2 linked regions of the Homo sapiens genome follow. The protein of the gene in region 1 purifies or fractionates together with the protein of each later gene. This does not show direct contact. Each region holds a gene or a part of one and is shown on either strand. Other genes may lie near its edges.

What was found. Proteins that work in one complex are often made in the same cells at the same time.
Region 2: the proteins of CGAS (region 1) and IFI16 purify together in Homo sapiens (affinity purification with western blotting; 2 studies listed by BioGRID, with this or other methods). This does not show direct contact.

Annotation. Positions count from the first base shown.
Region 1 is NC_000006.12:73,427,799-73,436,031, forward strand, and holds part of CGAS (cyclic GMP-AMP synthase), read right to left. Parts: intron 1,014-8,233; coding exon 911-1,013; intron 1-910. UniProt on the Homo sapiens protein: Nucleotidyltransferase that catalyzes the formation of cyclic GMP-AMP (2',3'-cGAMP) from ATP and GTP and plays a key role in innate immunity.
Region 2 is NC_000001.11:159,005,508-159,013,522, reverse strand, and holds the start of IFI16 (gamma-interferon-inducible protein 16), read right to left. Parts: upstream 3,617-8,015; 5' UTR 3,362-3,616; intron 1,017-3,361; exon of another isoform or gene 43-1,016; intron 1-42.

The DNA of each region.
Region 1 (8,233 bases):
CACCATCTCTACCAATAAAAAAAATTTTTTTTGAGACAGGGTGTCACTATGTCACCCAGGTTGCAGTGCAGTGGCACGATCATGGCTCACTGCAGCCTTGATTTTCTGGGCTCGAGCCATTCTCCTACCTCAGCCTTCCAAGTAGCTGGGACCACAGGCACCAGTCACCATGCCTGGCTAATTTTTAAATTTTTTATGGAGGTGGGGTCTCACCATGTTGCTAGGCTGGGATTACAGGTGTGAGCCAACAGGCCCTCTACAAAATTTTTTTTTAAATTAGCCGAGCATGGTGGCATGCACCTGTAATCTCAGCTACTTGGGGGGCTGAGGTAGGATGATTGCTTGAGCCCAGGAGATCGAGGCTGTGGTGAGCCGTAATTGTGCCACTGCACTCCAGTCTGGGTGACAGAGTGAAAGTCTGTCTCAAAAAAAAAAATTACTCACTTAGTGTTGTTTTCAGTTTGGCCAATCAATCCCTAGCCGTCAACACAACCCAACTATCCCAAAGCAAGCCCAGTATCTAATAAGAGCGACCTTTTGGCCTCCTCCAATTATATGGCATTAATATCCATTACTTTTAAACAAGCAGAATACTAAGACCCATCGAATTGTCATGGCTAGTGCTCATACCCTCTCACTCTGTCCTACTGATACATCTATACAAAAACACATTCATCTGATCCAGGGTTCAGAACTACTATTCCCCGGCCTTGCCTTCTAACAACACCCTTTCCTTGGCCCTTTGGATCTAGCTTCTCTGGTTTCATACTCACACTCTCCCCAGCTCAACCCAATCCTGCCCTGCCCCCCAGACCCAACCCAGCTCAGCTCTTCAGGTCTGAGGTGTGGAGTCAACAAATAATTAAGCATACCATAGATAATCTGTCATTTAACAAAATAAGGCTGTTACCTGCAACATTTCTCTTCTTTGTTTTCACAGCACGTTTTAGATTTTCCATGATTGTTCAAAATTTCCTTTTCGATGTGAGAGAAGGATAGCCGCCATGTTTCTTCTTAATTTCAAAAAGAAAAACAAAAAAGCACTTTACCCAAAGCATCCATATCTAAACAATATTCAAGTGGTTTCCCTCATGAAAATATCCTGGGGCTGGGCATGGGGGCTCACGCCTGTAATCTCAGTACTTTGGGAGGCCGAGGAGGGTGGGTCACCTGAGGTCGGGAGTTCGAGACCAGCCTGACCAACATGGAGAAACCCATCTCTACCAAAAATACAAAAAAAAGTTATCCTGGCATGGTGGCACATGCCTGTAATCCCAGCTACTCGGGAGGCTGAGGAAGGAGAATCACTTGAACCTGGGAGGTGGAGGTTGCAGTGAGCCGAGATTGCACCATTGCACTCCAGCCTGGGCAACAAGAGCAAAACTCCATCAAAAAAAAAAAAAGAAAGAAAGAAAAAGAAAATATTCTGAAAAAATCTTAGGAGTGAATCAAAAGAAGTGAACAGATAAATAATTATGTATAAAAATAAGTACACTGAGACAAAAAATGGGCCTAACCGAAAAAAAAAGGAAGTCACAGTTTAATATAGTTAGCAATAGTAAGATGTATTACCTTTTATATATTGCTAAATTCCCTTTGTTAAATATTTTGTTTCAATAATAATTTGAATCAATTTATTCACTTTTTCTGTACCATCCTTACAGGTTTTATATTAATACAAAATGAATTGGGGACCATTTCCTTTATTCTTATTTATGAGAGTTTGTGTAAATATAGAATGATTTCACCTGGGCGCGGTGGCTCACGCCTGTAATCCCAGCACCTTGGGAGGCCAAGGTGGGCGGATCACAAGGTCGGGAGATCAAGACCATCCTGGCTAACACAGTGAAACCCTGCCTCTACCAAAAATACAAAAAATTAGCCGGGCGTGGTGGCGGGCGCCTGTAATCCCAGCTACTTGGGAGGCTGAGGCAGGAGAATGGCGCGAACCCGGGAGGTGGAGCTTGCAGTGAGCGGAGATCGCGCCACTGCACTCCAGCCTGGGCAACAGCACAAGACTCTGTCTCAAAAAAAAAAAATTTCTCCCCGAGTCTTACCATGGCTAGCTCTTTTATGCTCTGACCACCCTGTTACTTCGTGGTTTTATACTAGCAAAGTATAAGTAGTTTATAATCTGAATGATTTTTCAGAAAAATCAATCAATATAATCTGTCACATTAACAGAATAGAGGAGAAATACATGATTGTCTCAATAGATGAAGAAAATGAAGCTCTTAAAATCCTATAGTCGTTCATCATTAAAAAAACACCTCTTAGCAATCTAAGTCTAGATGGACACTTGATTCCATAAAAGGTAGATTTTAGAAAACTATAGCAACAATCATTATGTGAGGTAAAAAGTTGGAGAGAGAAATCAGAAAGAAGGCAAAACATCTGCTATCTCTATTTCTGTTCAACATGCACTGGGTGTCATAGCAAGCACAGTAAGGGAAGGAAAAACAGGGTTACACACTGGAAAGGGAGAAACAAAGCCATCATTATTCATAGGTGATGTAATTGCATATATAGGAAATACAAAAGAATCTACAATGCTGGGCATGGTGGTTCACGCCTGTAATCCCAGCACTTCAGGAGGCCGAGACAGGAGACCAGCCTGGCCAACATGGTGAAACACCATATCTACTAAAAATAGAAAGATTAGCTTAGCCAGTGTGGTGGCGTGTGCCTACACATACCACATGTATGTATGTATTTGTATATAGTCCCAGCTACTTGGGAGGCTGAGGCAGGAGAATCCCTTGAACCCGGAATGCCGAGGTTGCAGTGAGTCGAGATCACGCCACTGCACTCCAGCCTGGACAACAGAGCGAGGCTCCATCTCAAAAAAGAAAGAAAATGAAAAAAGAAAAAAAAAATTATGTAAATAAACTCACCAAATCAATTAAAAGAGTTACCAAGATTGTGGATACAAAAATCAAAGGTATTTTGATATATGGTAATAAACAAAAAATGAAATTTTGAGAAAGATGTTACTTACAATAGTATAAAAACTAGCAATTAGGCCAGGTGCAGTGGCTCATGCCTGTAATCCCAGCACCGTGGGAGGCCGAGGTGAGCAGATCACCTGAGATATGGGGTTCAAGAGCAGCCTGGCAAACATGGCGAAACTCCGTCGCTACTAAAAATACAAAAATTAGCCAGGCATTGTGGCACACAGTTGTAATCCCAGCTACTCAGGAGGCTGAGGCAGGGGAATCGCTTGAATTCAGGAGGCAGAGGTTGCAGTGAGCCAAGATCATGCCATTGCACTCCAGCCTGGATGACAGAGTGAGACTCAGTCTCAAAAAACAAAAACAAAAACAAAAAACAAACAAAAAAAAACACCCAACAGTTACCTTCTAGATCTAACTGCTAATGAAATATGGATGAGGCCAGGCACAGTGGCTCACTCCTGTAATCCCAGCACTTTGGGAGGCTGAGGCGGTGGATCACCTGAGGTCAGGAGTTCGAGACCAGCCGGACCAACATGGTGAAACCCCATTTCTACTAAAAATACAAACATTTAGCCGGGCATGGTGGCACAAGCCTGTAATCCCAGCTACTCTGGAGGCTAAGGCAGGAGAATCACTTAAACCTGGGAGGCGCAGGTTGCAGTGAGCCAAGATCGGGCGATTGCACTCCAGACTGGGCAACAAGAGCAAAACTCCCTCTCAAAAAAACAAAACAACAACAACAACAAAAAGAAATATGGATGAAAGCAGAACATGCTAAACGACACTTCTAGAATGCACTCTACAAACTCTCTTTGGGAAACTCTACAGGAAAAATAACCTGTTTCTTCAATGAGTAAATTGAAGTAAATTGAGTAAATTTTATTCAAGGAATAAAAAAGTTATGAAAGAGGAAGTTATGAGTTAAAAGAGATTTAACAGACATATTGGTCAGTCACAATGTATGAACCTTATTTGAATCCTGATCCAAACAGACTGATCCAAACATACAAAAAAAGTATGACACTTACAAGACAAGCGGAAATTTTAATACTGAATAGGTGTTTGATATTAGGGAATTATTACTTTTTTCTTTCATTTTTTGAGACAAGATCTCCCTCTATCACCCAGGCTGGAGTGCGTGAACACAGCTCACTGAAACCTCGACTTCCCAGCCTCAAGCAATCTTCTCATGTTAGCCGTTCCAATAGCGGGACCAGAAGCATACATCACCATGGCTGGCTAATTTTTGGATTTTTTTGTAGAGACGGGGTCTCTCCACCTTGCCCAGGCTGATCTCAAACTCCTGGGGTCCAGCAATCCTCCCACCTCCCAAAGTGCTGGAATTACAGCTGTGAGCCACTGTGCCCAGCTAATATAAGAAAATTATTATTTGTTTATACATTTATTTTTATTTATTTTTATTTTTTGAGATTGAGTCTCGCTCTGTTGCCCAGGCTGGAGTGCAGTGACACCATCTCAGCTCACTGCAACCTCTGCCTTCCAGGTTCAAGTGATTCTCCTGCCTCAGCCTCCTGAGTAGCTGGGATTACAGGCATGCGCCACCATGCCCGGCTAATTTTGTATTTTTAGTAGAGATGGGGTTTCACCATGTTGGCCAGGCTGGTCTCGCACTCCTGACCTCAGGTGACCCACCCGCCTTGGCCTCCCAAAGTGCTTGGATTACAGGTGTGAGCCACCGCTCCCAGTCATTGATTATTTTTTTAAGACAAGGTTTCACTTTGTCACCCAGGCTGGAGCGCAGTGACATGATCTCGGCTCACAGAAGCCTCAACCTCCTAGACTCAAGTGATTCTCCCACCTCAGCCCCCCAAATAGCTGGGACAACAGGTGCATATTACCACACCCAGCTAATTTATTTTGTATTTTTTGAAGAGACAGGGTTTTGTCACGTGGCCCAGGCTTGAACTCCTGGGCTCAAGTGATCCACCCACCTCAGCCTCCCAAAATGCTGGTATTACAAGCATGAGCCAACACTCCTGGCCCAGTCTCCTTTGGTACTGGTTTAAAATTTTCATAATAAAAAGTTTTGGCCAGGCGCGGTGGCTCACGCCTGTCATCCCAGTACTTTGGGAGGCCGAGGTGAGCAGATCACCTGAGGTCAGGAGTTTGAGAGCAGCCTGGACAACATGGTGAAACCCTATCTCTACTAAAAATACAAAAACTAGCCAGACACGGTGGTGGGCACCTGTAATCCCAGCTACTCAGGAGGCTGAGGCAGGAGAATCGCTTGAACCCAGGAGGTGGAGGGTGCAGTGAGCCGAGATCGCACCACTGCACTCCAGCCTGGGTGACAGAGCGAGACTCCATCTCAAAATAAATAAATAAATAAATAGTTTTAAAATAGATCAATTACCTATGAATAAATTAACAAAAGATATACAAAACCTCTGCAGAGAAAATGCTAATGAATGAAGCTGGGAAGTATTAGAGGAGATGTAAATAAGTGGATTGGGAGACTCAATATTGTTAACATATCAACTCTCTCCCATGTTTTTTTTTTTTAATACAGACAGTGTCTTGTTATGTTGCCCAGGCTGGAGTGCAGTGGCAAGATCATAGCTCACTGTAACCTCGAACTCCTGAGCTTAAGTGATTCTCTTGCGTAACTAAGACTACAAGCTACAAGTGCACACCACCACGCCTGGCTAATTTTTAAAAAGTTTTTATAGAGATGAAGACTCACAACTCTCTATAAAAACTTTTATAGAGAGTTTTTTTTTTTTAATTTTTTTTTGAGACGGAGTCTCTCTCTGTCACCAGGCTGGAGTGCAATGGCGTGATCTTGGCTCACTGCAACCTCTGCCTCCTGGGTTCAAGCGATTCTCCTGCCTCAGCCTCCCGAGTAGCTAGGACTACAGGCACGTGCCACCATGCCCAGCTAATTTTTGTATTTTTAGTAGAAATGGGGTCTTACCATGTTGGCCAGGATGGTCTCGATCTCTTGACCTCGTAATCCACTCACCTTGGCCTTCCAAAGTGCTGGGATTACAGGCGTGAGCCACCACGCCTGGCTAGAGTTTTTACACAGTGTTGTCCAAGATGGTCTTGAACCCCTCACCTAAAGCAACTCTCCTTCCTCAGCCTTCTGAAGTGCTGGAATTACAGGCATAAGTCATCATTCCTGGCCCCAAATTTATCTATAGATTCAACATTATCTCAATCAAAATTCCAAAAAGTATTTTGTGGAATCTGAAAAGCTGATTTCAAAATTTATATGAGAATGTAAAGGGTCAAGACTCTCTCAGACACCCTTGGAGAAAAACGAAGTGGTAGAACTTGCCCTAAAAGATATTGAGACTAATTATAAAGCTACATTATGTACAACAACATGGTACAAAGATAGACAAAGATTTTAATGGGACAGAATAAAGAGTTCAGGGATAGCTACACAATACGGTTGGCCCTCTGTATCTGAGGGTTTCACATCTGAGAATTCAACCAATCGTGAATTGAAACCCACAGATATGGAGGGCCAACTGTATTATATCATTTTATGTAAGGGATTTGAGCATCTGTGGACTTCGGTGTCTGCAGGGTACCCTGGAGCCAATCCTGAGGGTCAACTGTACATGACTGTAAAGAAAGGTGGCACGTACCGTTGATAAAATTTGATAAGGATGGCACTTTGCCTCTGTGACCTTCCTCCCCCAAACCAATAACTCTGATCTAATCATAAGAAACATAATAAAGAAATCTCAAGTAAAGGACATTCTACAAAATACCTAACTAGTACTCCTCAAAACTGTTAAAACCAAAAAACTGTCACAGTCAAGAGTAGCTTAAGGAGACATGACAACTAAATGCAATATGGTATCCTAAATGGGATCTTGGAACAGTAAAAGGACATTAAGAAAAACTAAGGAAATCTGGATAAAGTATATAATTTTTTTTTTTAATGGAGTCTCGCTGTGTCTCCTAGACTGGAGTGCAGTGGCATGATCTTGGCTCACTGCAACTCCACCCACCAAGTTCAAGTGATTCTCCTGTCTCGGCCTCCTGAGTAGCTGGGACTAAGTCACATGCCACCACGCCTGGCTAATTTTTGTATTTTTTTAGTAGAGACGGGGTTTTGCCATGTTGGCCAGGGTGGTTTCGAACTCTTGATTTCAGGTGATCTGCCCACCTCGGCCTCCCAAAGTGCTGGGATTACAGGCAAGACCCACTGTGCCCAGCAGATATAGCCCTTAGCTAACAATAATATATCAATATTGGTTTATTAATTATTAAATGTATTGTATTAATGTGAGATATTAATAATAGGAAAATGGGGGTGCTGCAGTGGCACGTGTCTGTAGTCCCAGTTACTTGATAAGGTGAGGTGGGAGGATCATTGAGCTCAGTTCAAGACCAGCATGGGCAACATAGTGAAACTCTGCCCCACTACCTCCCCCAGAAAAAACCCCAGGGGAATGGGTATGGGGTTATACGGGAACTCTCTGTACTATCTTCACAATTTTTCTGTAAATACAAAACTATGCTAAAACAAAAAGTTTATTTTTAAATAAACTACACTGAGATATCATTTCTTACTTTTTGAGATATCATTTTCTCACTGGCAAGAATTTCAATTGGCAAAAAGTTTAACAAGTCAGTGAGGTTGAGAGTGAAACAGGTACTCTGATACATTGCTGTGGAAAAGCAAATTGGAATGATGCCTATGGAGATCTGGGAAATGCCTAGCAATATTACATAACGATTTACTCTTTGACCAGCTGTAAAAATAGACTTTAAAAAGGAATGGGTGTTTTCTCTATATAGAGGTATGGAGTGAGATCGAAAATATCTTGTTAAATTAAAAGAAAAAAAGTGTTATATCTGAGAGCAGGGCGTCTATAAAATTAAAAAATAAACCAAATTAATAAAATTAAAAAGAAAAACATATGTCCTGGCCATGATGGCTCATGCCTATAATCCCAGCACTTTAGGAGGCCAAAGTGGGAGGACTGCTTTAGGCCAGGAGTTTGAGACCAGCCTGGGCAACATAGCAAGACCCTGTGTCTACTTTAAAAAAAAAAAAAAAAAAAGTGTACCTTTTATTTAAAAAGGGGGTAGCATACAAATATATTTTGTATGTATATAAATTACTATATTATCTAATATTTATGTTCAATCTACCTTTTTCAAAGTAATACCAGTATTATTACCAATAATACACTTATAAAAAACAGCTTATAATTTTTTTGCAGTTTTTTGTCCTTAAGATAAAAGGACAGTCAAAATACCAAGTTTTAAACCCACTTGAAAACATGTCCACTGAT
Region 2 (8,015 bases), on another chromosome or scaffold:
GGAATGATGTCTTTGTGTATAACCAAGATATCTAAATTTCAGGGGCTATTAATTGGGCCAGGCGCAGTGGCTCACGCCTGTAATTCCAGCATGTTGGGAGGCCGAGGTGGTCGAATCACAAGTTCCGGAGATCAAAAGCATCCTGGCTAACACAGTGAGACCTCGTTTCCACTAAAAATACCAAAAATTAGCCAGGTGTGGTGGCAAGCGCTTGCAGTCCCAGCTACTCGGGAGGCTGAGGCAGGAGAATTGCTTGAACCCAGGAGACGGAGGTTGCAGTGAGCGGAGATCGTGCCACTACACTCCAGCCTGGGTGACAGAGTGAGACTCCGTCAAAAAAAAAAAAAAAAAAAAAAAAAAGCTTCCTTCTTACGAGAACATGAGGATCCTTGGACTGAAAAGGTCCAGAGAATGAAGGGAAAATCTATACAAAAACACATTATAGTGAAACTGAAGAATATAATGAACAAAAATACTCTGTAAGCCTTCGGTAATGAGGAATAGATCACCTACAAAGATTCAAGAATCAAATTGAAAGTGAATCTCTATATCAAAACTGCCTGAAGCAGGACAATGGAGTTATTTTTATATAATGTTGGTCCAAAGTTCCATATCAATTGCAAAACCAAAAAAAATTTTCAATGGAAAGTTTTGACTTATTTTGTGAGTGTGCTAGAAACAATAAGTTCGTCTTCAAACTTTCCTGTTCTTTCCTGTTCTGTAAACAACCCTTCCTTCCTTTGCCGCCCCAGACATGCCTTCCCGCCTAATTGGTACAGGACAGTGTCTTCCTTCCCGCCTAATTACCCCTATAGAATTTAAAGCAGTAGCCAATCCGGTCAGCTTAGAATGTGCATTGTGACTGACGCAGGCAGCACCCTTCTGTAGAAGCAAATATGCTTTGCTGAGAAATTTCCTGTTTAAGTGCTGGTTTTTCTTTGTGGCACTGAGCACTTGTTTCCAACAAGTGTGACAGCACAATTTATTTGCAAAATAAAACCAGATTTGGGATGACAGTAGGCTATGTATAATCTTTATTTCACTGAAATGTGAACACTCACATGTTTTGTTTTGCAATATTAGTGCTTTTGATTTTGGAGTAATTATTTATATCCCAATGGAGTTTCTAGTAAGACACTATTTAGAATATATACACTAAATAGCCTTTCTGAAGCCTCCAGATTCTTAACTTCAAAATGTATCTAGCTCCACAGCACAGAAGAGGTGCTTTCATCTTGTCTTAAGGGAAAATATAATTTTACATTTTAGAGTTTTAATTTAGGCAAAATGATATTTAAATAGAAGAGTCTCAAAAACTATTTTGTGATACTCAGGGCCTCAGTCTTTTTGCAAGACAAAGACTCATACCACAAGAAAACATCTATTGAAAATAATATTTAATAGGAAAACATGAATAAAATTAAAAATTCTGCCAGCCAAAAGATAAGAAGAGTGAAAAATAAACTTTTTTAGGTGTTCCTAATGTCTTACAAAGAAAACCCTGATCAAATATAAGAGAAACAGAAATTACAACAGCATGGTAAAGGGAGGGAAGAAAAAGAACATGACAATTCACTAAAGCAATTGTCTTAGATAGTGAGATGATATAGAAGTGTCATAAATTGAAGTAAAGACAGCAGATTGTTAATTACCAGCATATACCTAAAAGGTCTGACCTGTTAAGTGACAACTTTCATCAAATTTGATTTAAGAAATCTACATATATATTGTTAACAAAAGGTGAAAAAAATTGTTAAAAATTATCTTGCAAGGAATAACTAAAGAAAGCCAGTTTATCTATGTTTGTGTAATTTTAAATATACCTTAAGCCCAAAAGTAACTTCAGATACCACATGATAAAAGTTTCAACTCCTAGAAAATTATGTTTTAGTTATGAATTTATCTAATTTATCTAATGATATTATTTATTATTTTATAGTGCTTCATGGTACTATAATTAGTATATATTTCTCTTCATATACACACATGTACAGACATCACTACACACATATATGTGTGTACCTGTTTGTATACATGATTATATATACATATATTTGTGTGTGAATGTATATTATATATACACATAACATGTATGTGATTGTGAGAGCACTACAAAGAAAAAAAATTTTTTTTTTTTTTTGAGACAGAGCCTTGCTCTGTCACCCAGGCTGGAGTGTAGTGGCACAGTCTCGGCTCACTGCAACCTCTGCCTCCTGGTTCAAGCGATTCTCCTGCCTCAGTCTCCTGAGTAGCTGGGATTACAGGCACACATGACCATACCCGGCTAATTATTGTATTTTTAATAGAGACAGGGTTTCGCCATGCTGGCCAGGCTGGTCTGGAACTCCTGACGTCAAGTGATCCGCTCGCCTTGGTCTCCCCCAAAGTACTGGGATTACAGGCATGAACCTCTGTGCCCGGCCAAAAAAGCAAACTTTATAATAGGAGATTTCAGTTTATGCTTCAATTACTAAATGAACAAGGTGAAAAAATCTGTAATGATATAATAAATTTGAACAACGTAATTAACAACATTTATCTAATAAAATTCTGAAAACAACATTTAAGAATCTCACATTCCATTTAAGCACACATGAAATATTGTACCAGGCTATAGAAAACATCTTTTAAAAATTTGAAAAGTAAACAATAGTAACCTTTTCCTAACTGCCTTCCCCTCCACTCCCCTATACCTTGCCACAAGGAAAAAAAAAATCATTAACTTTCAGGAGGGCAGAGAGTAATTCCAAAATGATTGAAATTCTGCCGCTAGCACCCGGTGCAGAATGGAGCTAAAGTAAAGGATCAATATACTTATGAAAATATTAAGACACCATGTGCTTGAGTAACTGTGTTTGTGAAACTGAAAAAAATTTTCTACTCTGTGTACATTTGTTCTTATGTTTTGTAAAATTGGGATGATGTCATATAATACATCTCTATGCTCAGATATGTTTTTTACTTAATATTCTTTCATGATACTTTTTTCATGTCACTATCTTGAGAACCCACCACAGCTACCGAGTTTCCAACACTTCTTCCAGCCAAAATAACAGAAGCCCTCTTCTAAGTACCAACTTATGCCAGTATACACTCGGATAATTAATTTTAAAATCTGCAACGGTCAAAATGCATTTTCTCTTGTTCAGTCCTCAGTTGTGGTGGAATAGAAGATGCCTGTTATCTTCCTAAGTAAATGAAGGATTCATATCAAGCAACTCAGTTTTCACTTTTCTGAATACTCAGCCCTACTCCCATCATCCCATGACCCTGAATAACCAATACTGATTGTCCCCTTGTGATTCTGGGGACTTCAAGGAAGGAACAAGATCATATTTACAAAATCAGGAACAGTACTCACCTCACTGGAAATTTTTTCAACAGTAGTCCAGATCTTGAGATCTTCAGAAATGCAGGAATCAATGCTTATTTGTGTGAGGGGGGAGATAAATCAGTAAAGTTCCCAGAAACGGAACCGCAGGATGTTGTAATCTCCAGAAACGCTAAGAAAATGAAGTATCTGCAAAGATAACAAGGAAAAAAGGCCTTGGTTGAGTCACTTAGTTAGCTGACTAGTGCTGGCTTGCTCCTATTCTGCTATTGCCCCAGAGAAAATGGAGTAGGAAACAATGTGGAGACTCCTCCCACCAGTGTTTTTAGCTTTCGTTTCTGTTAGTCAGAGAAAATGAACAGTTTCCTGGCAAGGGCTGGAGCATGTGGTGAGGGGAAATGGGGGATGAGAAATTACTTTAATGGGTACAGTTAACATTTTTCGGGTGATGTGCACACTGAAATCTCTGACTTCACCAATATGGCATATATCCATGTAACGAAATTACACTTGTATCTCATAAATGTATATAAACACAAATAAGTTTTTTTTCTTACAAAATTCGATAGCTGAAAGGAGTTCCAACATTAGAACTTTCTTACCCAGCAGACTTACATGTGAGTCATTAGAGACTTATATTCCCTTAAATGATGCTCAAATATAAGAGAAGCAACATGGCTTCTTCTCCCCTCCTTTCCTGTGCACAGAGTGGCAGTGGCAGGAGGAGATCTTGGTAGGAGCATCTATTGCTACCAATACTTTACTGCATCTCCTGGTTGGGGAAATGTCTGCTATGAAATCGCTATTTGTTTAAATACTACCTGAAGTATTCATCCAATTATTAATAACTGACAAGCCTGGGCTTTCCAGATCAGAAAGTCATTATGAATATGTAAATCCTTCCTTAAATTTATATGAAGGAGTTTAACACTAGCTGTCCTCTTGACCATGACTAGGTTACTTTACCTCAATGATTAGATTCACGAATGCTCAGATTTTCTGCATTATTCCTGGATAAACAAACGTGGATAGTGGACTCTCAACATGACAGCATCGAAGACTTGAAAATCCTGGAAAATGCACTGAACTTCCGGTAGTGTGAGGAGTCTGTTTAATCCTCTGCTCAGCAGTGTATTTTTCTCTGTTAAGGACAGTGGGTGCCCTTTAGCGTGCTGTAACCCCAGGATGTCAAATAAATGGCATCAACTAGCAGATGATGTGGTGTTAACCCAGCAGCAGATCTGCAAGCAGGATGTGGTCATGAGTGGAAAAGGGGCCCCATAGACTGTTAATATGTACTGTCCAAGGCCATCTACAGAGCAAAAGAAAGCTGATTGTTTTAATCCAAACTAGGGCCATGAAGTGAATAGCTGAATTCTGGATTTGAAACCATATGAATAACTTTATCAAAAAAGGAGTAAGTCAAGAAAAAGCAAAGAGGATCTGGAATGATGGCCATAAACATCTCTGGGTGTTCGTGATAATCTTTTACTGGCTTTAGGGTACTCTTTACGTGGATACATTGAGTTGGCCTTAAGGCAGTAGGTAGAGAAGGATATTAAGGCAGTCACTGGGAACCCCAATCCAGAGGTCAAAGGGTAGAGAACCCTTGGAAGTTATGACCCTTCAGAACATTTTCTGCCTTTTACTTATAATCATTTTATATGCAGTAATGTCCTCAATTGGGACTCCAGCATACAACACACAAACTGCGGTCACCTATAAGGGCAACTCAGGACAATGCTCCATAATTCATACCACAAAGATGAAATTTTCATAGATGAAGCAAAGAAATGCTTAAAAATGTGCATTTTCCCCCACTTTGTGGCAGTGGCCAACAATTGCAATTTGTGCTATCATACAGAAAAGTCATTAGTAGAATATACAAAAATTCCTGATAAAGCAAAAAATGTGCGAATATATATACATATATATAAATTATGTAGCTACATTATTACAGTGACTAAATTTATATTAATCAGGCATTATTCTGAATAAAATCTCTCAATTATGTACCTATTTTTGAACAATGAGTGTTCCATTTCTCTCTTTATGACAAAAAGCAGCTTACTATTTTACCTTTCTGGCCTCATTTTCCATACTGTTCCACATATACCAAAGTTTTAGCTGTGCAGAAACATTTATGTCACTTCACACTTTAGAGTATTTGTAGGTGACATTTCTCCTGTCAGTATTGCAAATGTCTTTACCTTGCTAAGAACAAAAAGACCTATTGCACACTGGTTTTTCATGATGCAATAGACTGTGGCATATGCATTGTTCACTTGTTTTGCAAATCAACTCTATGCAGCAAAGTTTCCCCTTTTTAGAGAAGACTACTATCTTAGTTGATTTGGGTCTTCTGGATGCTGAGGGTTCCAAGATCAAGGATGGCCAACTTAGTTTCTGGTATGAGCCCTCTTCCTGGCTTGCACATAGCCATATTTATGCAGGGTCCTCACCTAGTGTTGAGAGAGAGAGAGAGCACTCTCTGATACCTCTTCTTATAAGGGTGCTAATCACATTATGAGGACCCCACCCTCATAAACTACCCACCAAAGGCCTCGTTTTCAAATATCATCACACTGGGAGGTTATGGCTTCATCATATGAATTTAGATAACATAATCCAGTGTGTAGCAGTAATTGAAGCTATTTTCTAAAAACTAGGCGCCTAGTTAGTGTTGGAGCCAAATTCAAACCAGATCTACCTTATTCCAAAGCCCATGCACTTGAATGCTAAGCAAAATTACTTCCTTGATTTACTAATTTCTACACATATTTTTTTCTTTAGCAAAACATCCATGTCCTTTTAAGCTTGTGTGAATGTCATTTTCTTCATTATTTCTTTACAGATTCTCCACTTAACAATATTAGCACAAGGGCATTGTTTGGGTTCTCATGCTTCCTGCTGGGGCTGGACCTTTGCTGTTAAGACACAGAATCTGATTTTCCCAAAGCCTAAACCGAATTATTTTCTTTTTTGGAATACTAACATTTGTCTCTCCAACTCTCACATGAATGGAACCATGCATTTCAGATAATGGCTTTGATGTTTTGTCCATTGATTCTCAGTTGAAATTAGAAGTCAAAGTTTATCTTTTTCGTCACACTTGGTTTTGTGCTGTTTCCTTTTCCCCAATACTTCCATTTTTCTCTGTATTATCTTGTATTTCCTAGATTGTGTTCTACTTAACATATGTATTTGTGATTAAAATTAAAGTATATTATTATATGATAAGGTAAAGGCCAATTCAATTCTATAAACAGTCAGAAATGCGAAATAACACAAAATTACGGACATAAAAGATGGGAGAAGTTTATGGTGCAAATACCTATCGCCTTGGTCTTTTTGTTTGTTTGTTTGTTTTTTGGCACTTGCACCAAGGGTGAATGTAGTTAAACAGGTGGTTATCGGGAAAACGCCCTGCTGGACTAAGAACCACCCTATATTGAAATGCCTAACCTTGTTTTTACTCTAACTCGTTACTTTGAATTTTGTCCTGCTTGTCTCTTTAATCACCCAGCCTTGCTTCTCATGTAAATAAGACTCTCTCTAGCTGGGAAGGTCGGACAAACTCCAATTGACCCCTTAATTTACAAGACACTAAGGGCTCCTTACCCAACCCCCTTTAGTAAGGAGTTGGCCTGGGTAAACAGATCCTCAGCGTTTCAAAAGAGCCCAATTAACTGATAAGGTAGTAACACCAACAATGTATGAAGTTCCCAGGCTTTTTCTCAAAAAGATAACAACATAAAACCTTGAGTTCGTGTCCGGCATAGACCCTATATCTAATTACAATGAAAGATTTACAACCTTGCACCTGGTACCGTTGCTCTTCTTGTAACCATTTGTCTTTTAAGGCATGTTTTTGCTTCTGTAGAATTATTGCATTTGAGTCCCCCTCCCCTTCCTAAACCTAGGTATAAAAGTTAATCAAGCCCCTTCCTCGGGGCCGAGAGAATTTTGAGCATTAGCCGTCTCTTTGGCCACTGGCTTACTAAAGGACTCTTAATTCGTCTCAAAGTGTGGGGTATTTTCTTAACTCGCTTGGGTACAACAATATAAGCACAAGGCAAGCTCAGACCAAAGAAGAGGCAGACCACTCCTGGCTGGTTGGTAGTCAAAGATCTAGATAGCAGAAACTTACACAGGAGGCAGTCTTAAGCGGGAACAAGAGAAGTCAGATCTCCACCTCGCAGTGCACGCCTGAGTAGTCTTTCAGACAGTGAGAAGAAACAAGGAAGGAAAAGCTGATGGGGGCGCTGAGGGGTGGGGATAGCTATACCGATAGTGCCTTAGGCCATCTGGTTGCTCTCTTAATCTATTTACTTCCTGCTTAAATGGATTGTTTGAGCTTCCTTCAATCTGTTCCACATTGCTAAGGAGTGGGAGGATGTTCCTGGAAGCAGCAGTCATCTTGGTGCCAGTATGCATTTTCCAGTGGGACTGCAGCCTCCTACAATTCAATTTAAGCTCAGTTCCCAGAACACGTTTTCACAACAATGCCATTCCTTCCCCTCCAACCTCAAGGCTTCTCTCAGCCAGTCCTTCCTTGAAATTTTGTAGTTTCTGTATTGCAGTTTTGTATTCTACTTTTCCTGTTGCTCAAAGCTAATGCCATAAACTCCAGACAACTCTGTTGGCAGAAAGAGCTTCTGTAGTTCTAGGGATGACCTCTTTA